2 separate regions of the Homo sapiens genome follow, and region 2 is linked to region 1. Evidence: fine-mapped expression QTL. A gene starts in region 1. The other region holds a variant in brackets. All regions are shown on one strand. Distances are from middle to middle.

Region 1 (4,396 bases):
CCAAATCAAAAACCTGTAATCAGAAAATTCCAGACTCCTCCTTCAACTTCCTTCCCAAATTCAAACTGGCCACTAAGATGGATGGACTTCACTTCCTCTCTAGTGCCTGTCACTGCCTTATTCTGGACCGCTCACCACTGCTCACTGCTCTTCCTCCCTGGTCTTTCCACCTTCAACCTTGCCCAACCCAGAGCTGTTTTCCACGCTGTAGTCATAATGGTTGTCTAAAGGGTAGATATGATCATGACACAGAAGAGAGCTCACGATCTGTGCCTCACTACCTTGCAACCCCACTCACTACCTGCCACTCCCTAGAAACACCCTCTATTTCTCAGTTGTACTTGATATTCTCGGTCTGCACCACAATCTTTGACGCCCCCAAAGCTTAAAGTATGCTTCTTTCTCTTCCTTGACAGCCTAACCAGTGCCTTTACCACGTGGCTAACTCTTAGTCATTCTTCATGACTCAGTCTGAGTTTTATTCCCTCCAGAAACCTTTCCATGCCCCTCTTCCTTGGCCCTATAGCACCTTGGTCCACCTACACAGAATTGTTCACCACATCATAATTGATCCTGTCTTTTGTCTTTCCTGCTAATTCCTTGAAGGAAGAACTCTTCTTCACCCCTGTATCTCCAGCATCAACAGTTCAAACACAGCAGCACTTTTTAAGTGTTTACTAAGTTTTGTTTTTTGTTTTTTTGAGATTGTAGTTACTGAAAAAGTGATAAAAAGCACGTGGACCTAAAAGAAATAATTCATAAATTTCAGAGTTGTAATAAACTCTGAAAATAATCTTTTTCAACTTCTTAATTTACAAATGAGGTTTATAAAAAAGATTTAAGAAAGATTTTTCCCAATAGCATGGATATGAGAGAAGGAAAAATAAACTAGTGAAGATACCCTCCCCTACCCCGAAAATCTTAAAACTGTCTAAGGAAAAGGTATCTGGGGAATATAATGGATAAATGGAATGCCATCTATTTCAGCACCAACCACACAATTCTATGAAGCGCATGAGGAGCTCTTCCTAGTGTCACCAGTAAAATACGCGTTTCTTCACCCAAGGCTCAAAGCTTCTACCTGTGTTTGTGCCTACAATTCCAAAACTGGCTCTTGGAACAGTCGCTTCCTCCACTGGGAAGGAGTTGCCACACCTGTAAAAGGAACAGGTTGTTTGTGATCGCTAAGGTCAACCTCTTATCTCTGATGGTCTCTGAATTTAGAGTACAATTTAAATATATAGTTAACATAGTCCGGGAGAGATACAGGGAAGGGGTGAGGGAAGTTTACTTACAATCAGGACTGGGTGTGAACGTTATGGGAACCTAGAATATTAGAGCTGGGGCTGATCTGGGATTACTCTAATCAATATCCTTCTTGTAGTAGCCGAGGGGACTGAAGCCCAGAAAACTTCAGGACCCGCCCAGGGTCTCCCAGTAGCTAGTGTGTAAGCTGAGACCAGAACTTGGCTCGTTCTCTCCCAGTCCTGAGCTTGGGCAGAATCACCAGCAACGCCAGCTCCCTTCCCTTTCCTTCAGATGGGTCTCGGGTCCAGAGCTGGCGCCCGCTAGCGGGAGGCCAGACCGGGAGGGCCAAGGCAGCCACCTGTGGCTTTCCCATCCCTCAGGTCCAGCAGTGCACATGGGGTGCCCCCGCGTCAACGCCGGAGGAGTGACCTTGCAAACCCGCGCCCCGCGGGCGGCAGAGCCGGCCGCTCACTGCCCGGTCCCCGGCCACCACGGAAGAGCGAAGATCTCTGCCAGGGCAGGAGCCCTAGCCCCGACCCGCGCCCCAAGTCTCTCCCGCGCGGCGGCTTCCGGCCGCCATGGTTTCCATAGCAACAACAGCACAAGCTGCCGGGTCCCAGAGACGCCCTAGGGTCAGAGGTCATCTCCGTGGCAACGGAAACTTCCCGCGCTACGGCGGCTCCAACGGGCCGCTTCCGCCGCATTGCGTAGCGAAGCCCCCGGCGAGCCGAGGCTGGGAGCGCGGTGATGGCCGGTCCCCGTGAGCAGAGGGCAGCGGCGGCGGGACCGGGGACTCTGGGCCAATGGGTAAAGCCAGGAGGAAGCCCGTGCCTGGCCCGTTGGGCTCCCTCCTCCTCAGAGCCGAAGCAGTCCACACTCGGAACCCAGCTTCACCCGGATTACCGAGGGGTTCCACGCCTGGAGGCAGAGCTGCAGCGTGGGCCCGCTCGCGGCTTTGCAGAAAACAAATAATGACACACTTCTCTGGAAGCCCGGGGCCTGGGCCCAGAGCCGTGGCTTCTGCCAAACTTTCTGGTCCCGGACACCAACTCCCCGCCTCTCAGCCCGAGGCCACAGCGGCCCAGCACCCTGCACCTTTTAAAGTGGCTCCAAAAAGGAGAAAGCCAAATAGATCAGGGTGGTAGGCGCGAGTGCAGGGAGCTGCGAAGTTGGAAGATTACTGCTTTTCAAACTGCCAAAGAGCAAAATACTAAGCGAGAAACTCCGTCCAAAGCAACTGGAACTCGAGGTTCTTTACTAATGAGAGTTCCAGTTACCATCTTCAGAGAAAGGAGCTCAAAAGAGGGAGTTTATTTTTTGCGGAATGTCTTCCTTGTTAAGAAGAAAATTAAAGATTAAAAAAGAAAATGAAGGGTCTGGCAACTATGAACCTAATGGTGCCCTAACGTTTGCTATTCTAAGGCCGAGAATGCCAGATGGGGAGAACGCCATGAGCTTTTGAGCTTGTGTATTTTGCGAGAGGCTCGAGTGTGAACAGTAGACTACAGGCCTTGAGACTGAGAAGGAAGCTATAAAATGTGGGCCAAGGGAATGTCTGCAGGACCGGGTTTCAGAGCACCCTATCGTGGCGGATAAAGAGCCACTAACAGCTTTTTTCTTTATTTAGTAGCCAAATTCTTGGTTGGCGCTTTGAGAAAGGAGTAAGCATTAAGCGAATTTAACCAAGTAAAATGTATCGTCCTGCCCTTTGTAGTCCCATAGTTCACTATCCTAGAGATACCTATTTTTCACTATTTTATTAAAGTGTATTGAAAACCTACCATGTGTCGTGAACAGAGTTTTTGTCAAGAGACAGTGACAAAGGCAGTGGTGCCCAGCAGTTGTTGGGTGACTTTCTTACATGATGTTACCAGACTAATCAAACAAGAACTTCACTGTTCCCTATAAAACATGTCTGCGACATTCATCCTTTTTGCCTTCAAGTTTAGGAAGTCCCTAAGAATCCCTCCTTTTGTTCCCTTCTCTTCATCATCCTACCTTTTACATTCTGACCAAAGTAAAAAAAATAGTGGCAGCTAGAGAACTACACAGGGAAAACATCAGGACATAGTTGGTCTTGATACAAAAGAGCTATTGCATCTCTAGAGGTATACGGGGAGCTGAGAAGTCTCCCTCAGAAAACTCCATGCCCTTCAGTACCCGGGTTCAACACATAACTAAACCTTGTACCTGGTACACAAGTCCTAAGGAACACCACACAGACTATGGCAGTGAGCAGGCAGATGTGTAAATAGGTGTTTCCCTGTCCCTATTTACAGGAGGTAAATAGTATTACCTCCACAGTCCCTCCTGGAGGTAATACTGAGTTGGGCTCAAAGGTTTTATTAAAAATAGGCACAGTGCAATGACTTGTTTAACACTGAAGAGAAGAGCTCCTGTTAGACTGTTCAAACAGCCCAACTGTTTCCCCTTAAGGCAAAAGACACTATTTTGAATAAATGCTTCCATTTTGAGACATCTACGTGGTATTTATAGAAGGCGTATGAGTCAATTTGAGTGAGGTATGATGCCAAAATGTGCAAAGGAGTGAAAACATTGGTTGTTGTCCTTGTTACCATATGTATAAAAACACTTCACAAAAGTCTCCAATGTTTGTGTTGCTAAAACATGGAAGACTGGGTTCGAACATTTTAAAGGAATGGTTCATTGTAGGAAACGTGAAGTATAGTATAGAATTAGCTTTAGCACTTTCAGAAAGTACTGCATCATTTGAACAAATTTTCTCAGTTATGGATGCTGTCTAAGATGAGAACAAGTTGTACAGCCAAAGTCATCTTCATTGTTAAAACTAAGTTTAGATTATCATGCATTGAATTTTACACTTATTAACTGGGATATACATTTCAAAAAAGAAAAATCTACTCTCCCAACAAGGCAGTACTCCGAAGCCTACCTAAAATGCCATCCTTTGGTTCATGGAGTGGCACTGCTCTACAAAACCCATTTTGTTACCTCAGTAAATAAGCTTCCTGGATGGAGTCTAAGGCCAACTAATACTACATTGAATCCCACTCTACAGCCAAGCATGTTAGAAGAAGCAGCTTACATCTGTTTGCTGTTCCAGACGTGCAGTCTGAATTTGATGTTTTCATTTGAAATATACTCAGTGTTTAGACTTGCAGAGGTT
Region 2 (4,396 bases), 100 kb before region 1:
TTAAGCCTTTTCTTCTTTTGAAACTGTCTTTACAAATATTACTCTGGTAATTTTATATATGGGGTTTGGTCCTACCTTCAGATTAGAGAAACTGTATTTTGAGTTCTGAGTAGAAGGCAGAGAGGAACTCGCTAACATGTTCATAGGATTTGGGAGGAAAAAAAGTCTAGAAGTTTTCACAGTGGTGCTAGGAGAAGCTTAAAGGAGTGTATTCCTTCCCCGTGTCAAGAATGTGTTCTCTATTCACCAGAGTAAATAAATAACTGCATAGGTGTAAATTAAAATAGATAGATCAATAAATAACATTTTTTAGAACCAGAAAAATCAGCATCCATCAAGCTGAGAGTCCCCACACAATACCATACTGTGGGGTGTGCTATACTGAAGAAACCAAGGAAAGAATGTTAAAGACTTGATTGGAATAAAATCAGACCCTAAGAATAAGGCTGGGAAAAAAATACAGAGCTCAGAGCCCAGCAGCTACGTACACCTGAAAGGATTCAACAGGTCCCAGGAAGGTGTCTGCACCTCTGCCCTGACTCCTCCAATGCTCTGGTTTTTACCACCTCAAAAGGGAGGTGGTATCACTTATTGTAGGACCCCAGGCCGACCCTCCTGCTTGTCCACATGGTGCCTGTGGTGCCTACTTGGACTTAAAGTATAAAACTTGGAAGCATTTAAAGGGTAAGAGAAATGCTTGAGAGTCGCTGCAGTGAGTCAGCACATTAATGCTGACTCCACAGTTATCTGGATTAGAGCCGGCCTTGTCTGTGACCTGGACTCTCACTTTGCCCAATCCCAAGCGCTTGCAGAATGGCTGGCTGGCCGGAGCCCCCGCCAATTTGTTTTTCTGGCTTGCATTTCATTATTTAACATAAACCAGGAGTCAGTACTAAACCAGCCTTCTAGTTCTCATATCTTTCATCATCCCAGAAATTGACAAAAACTGACAGAGTTGAGAGGATGTCTCATTTTACCTGCCAAATATTTCCTACCTTATACTCTATAGCAAAAAAAAAAAAAAAAAAAAAAAAAAACTGACAATTTCAAAGCATTTTCAAAGCAGAAGATTTTAATGTATTGTTATTCTTGAGGATAAATCTTTCAGGATATTACCTTCCAGAATTTCTGATGTAACAGGAAAGAGTAAGATCAGTATCTGAAGCAGTTTCCACAGATAAGACTAGATCATTATATTTTTTAAAGATATGTACATGGACATCAGCTTGTTCTGGGCTCTCGCATATATCTACTACAGTGTCAGACACCTACCAAGTGCTTAATAAGTATGAATTCTTAGCTTTTCCTTCAGGGTTTTGGGTAAGCCTTTGCAATTCCCAAGTCGAAAGTCAGCAAAACGTTATATATCAAACAAAAGAAACCACCTCACCTACAACAATGGGCCTGAGACTCAGCAGGATGAGAAATATCTTTTTATGAATACAGTTTTTAAAATATGGAGCCACCCCACATAATAAACAGCAGGACAGGTCAAGTATTAGACACAATGAATGACAATGGGTGGCTTGGGCGTGTCTTCTGAACACAGTGGGCCATAGCCATGGTCCTCATTTCTTTCTAATTGGCACATGTGACATCTGGACCTCTCTATTAGCCTGAAGTCACAGCACTTTGTGCAGGAACCACAGATTTAAAGAGACCTTGGTATGTATTCATAAGGCTGAAATGAAGATCACATCTGCGCAACTCCACCAGCCCTTTCCTCAAAGTCTCTCCAGGATCGATGATTAAGGAAAGCAAGATGATTGACAGGTAGTACTACAAGGATTAGCAAATTGCAGCTCCCTTCTCACCACCCCACTGTCTGTCCATCTCTGGTATCCATTCCTGCCTCTCACCTCCCAACTACCAGGCTCCGTGTTTCTTCCCCTAGACAAGATGATGAAAGCAAGAGATCAGGTATTCAAAATTGCCATGAAGGCTCTCTCTTCCTTGCCATGCCATCCCTGGCATCTTGTCAGTTGGCTTCCAAGTTTCAGCATTCACTCTGTAAAATGAATTAATT[T/C]ATGTGAAATTTGCTGATAGATGCAGGATCAGCACTCTCAAAAAATGACAAATCTTCCTGATGGAATTTGTCTTTTAATTGTCTTCCCTTGGAGAATACATATTTTCACTCTCCCTATTGCTACCATAGGTACTGCATTTGTCCTGATCAGCACAGTAACATAAAGAGGCCGTAGAGAAGGCATATGGCCGGCTGCACTTTTCATTTCCTGGTTCTCTGTTGACAGTATTGCTTATTTCCAGATGGATAAATAGTTTGCACCTTAATGTAATCAAAGACTGAAAAAAAGATGCCACTTGAAAAACATTTGAGAAAAGAGAAAAGAAGGGGAAAATAGGCCTCTGAGGTGGTATCTATAATGTGGTACTGAATTTCACTCTATCTTCACAAACAATAAACCTCATGTTTTATAACATTTTACTGAAGCATTATTTTCTAATAAATCCCCTTTTGTTTTGATTCTTGTTGCTGTATAATAAGCAAAGAAGAAAAGAACAATGGCTGGAAATTCTGTCTGTGTGATTTGAAGTGCTCTCACTTGCATGCTGAGAAGTGTTATAACGAATATTTTTGGCATCAGCTGATGATAGCAGCTTGGTACTAGCAGCACTTGATTCAGAATGTCATATGATACAATAATACACAAATTGAGTGCACAGAGGGGGAAAAATCATGCAACCTGTCATAGGTACAGCGATATTCCATGAGTATTCAGGGCTGGAGATGTAGAAGTAGAAACCTGAAATCTGAAATATGAAAAAAATGAACAAACACTTAACATCCACAAATACCAAGCAAAAATTAACAAATGAAACATAGCAGTTGTTATGCAATCATAATACAAGAGGCTTCTCTAGTCAAAATCTTATGGCATAAATCTATGAATGATCTGCTACAACTAAAGTACTCAAGTCAATGGGAAAACATATTTATTCAAATAAAATGTCTTTTCTATGACTTTTTAACAACTAATTTTCTTAAAATAACAGGCCTTTTCTCCATTGCTTAATCTTCATCTTCCACTGACTTTTTAACAACTAATTTTCTTAAAATAACAGGCCTTTTCTCCATTGCTTAATCTTCATCTTCCACTGCTTTTTTCTAGAAGACTGTTTGGTCCAAAAAAAAAAAACAAACACATCCTGAATGATTAGGAAAACTACTAGGACTGCTTTATTTAAAAATTTATTTAATATCAGCAGGGAATTTATTTCATGTTATCTCTAAAAATAAACACATTCTAAATATTAACTCCAGGGGCATTCTTTTAACCCCGTGGCATCCACTTGGCTTGAACTCTGTCACTTGTGTTTGAATATTTGAGTGGTTGCTGGGAACTAGATTGTCAATTTCTGTTTGCCCTCCCCTCCTTTCTTATTTCCACTATTTCTCCAGTGGTCAAAATAGCTGTTTCCTTCTGATAATATTAGTGAAATTTTTCTAGTTTCACTTTTCCCTAGTCTATATAGTTAGACTGCCATTGTCCAAGTTCTGGCTCCCTCAGAACCATCTGTGTGACCTCTATCAAAAGACGGCTCTCTCAGTGCCTCAGTTTCCTGATCTACCTCCTGAGGTTACCGTGAGGACTAAATGAGTTACAATAGCACTTAGAACAATGTCTGGCACAGAGTAAGCTCTGTGTTAATGTTCTCAACTTGAAAATTGAAGTGATTTCATTGTGAATGCTATTATTCAAAATATTTTAAAATACCTACTTTGATTTGTTTTTCTCCCATCAGTTTGTGGATTACTTTACTTTAAGTAGTTGGTATGATTATTTTAAGTTGGCCACCCATAGGAGTTTAAAACCAGAAAGAACCATAAAAATCATGTTGTCCAACTTCTACAGGAGGTTCTTCATCATTATGATTATCACCAGGCATTTGTTCCTCAGTTAGTTATACTTCTTATCGATTCTGGTGCCACTGGAGCGCATTTTTATCTAAGCTCGGGGCATGGAGATGTTCTCAACCGTATCTACAAATTCACTTTCGTCTCTGTCCCTCTCATCAACATCTTCTGAACAGTAAAGATCATCACTCCACCATGCACTGTGATATCTAATGGTTCGTGGTGTAGGCAAAGAGGATTCCTAGTTACTCTAGACTTTTCCTTGCCCCTTAGCAGCCTTAAGTTTTTTTCTTGTCCTTTGACTTGTACGGTACTGTGTGGTTTGTGATACCTTTGCACTGTGTGGTTTGTGATACCTTTGCACAATTATTACACAATGGATCCTAAAACCAACTTTCTAAAGGTCGGCGAAGCAGGCATAATTATTCCCTCATTCTCCCTCAGGGCACTGAAAATCAAAGGCTAGGATCTTGCCTGAGATTACAGAATTAGAAGTACCAGAGAGAAACATAAAGTCCA

Alleles and levels. Positions count from the first base shown, and alleles are read on the strand shown. Sizes are in standard deviations (SD) of each study's normalised expression.
With allele C in place of T in region 2, the expression in testis of the gene that starts at base 1,843 in region 1 is higher (large effect, 0.80 SD a copy in GTEx).

What was found. PIP is the estimated chance that this variant, and not a neighbour inherited with it, causes the effect.
Region 2: its variant is the best candidate, but not a certain one, in a credible set for the expression of FGF14-IT1 in testis (GTEx, PIP 0.72).

What each region holds. Positions count from the first base shown.
Region 1 is chr13:102,392,677-102,397,072 of GRCh38, forward strand. FGF14-IT1 (FGF14 intronic transcript 1) reads right to left here and starts at 1,843. Exons shown (of 4, transcript NR_036486.1): 1 at 1,678-1,843; 2 at 1,082-1,155. It overlaps FGF14-AS2 (FGF14 antisense RNA 2), which reads left to right and starts at 1,902. Exons shown (of 1, transcript NR_036487.1): 1 at 1,902-3,029. It also overlaps a transcript of FGF14 not described here. RefSeq lists an enhancer at 1,749-1,978.
Region 2 is chr13:102,291,269-102,295,664 of GRCh38, forward strand. It overlaps FGF14-IT1 (FGF14 intronic transcript 1), which reads right to left. Exons shown (of 4, transcript NR_036486.1): 4 at 1,052-2,772. All of the region lies in intron 1 of LOC107984615 (a long non-coding RNA gene), which reads left to right. It also overlaps a transcript of FGF14 not described here. Among named protein-coding and RNA genes, the nearest start is that of FGF14-AS1, 74 kb to the right of the region's middle. The variant T/C (reference allele first, on the strand shown) is at 2,027.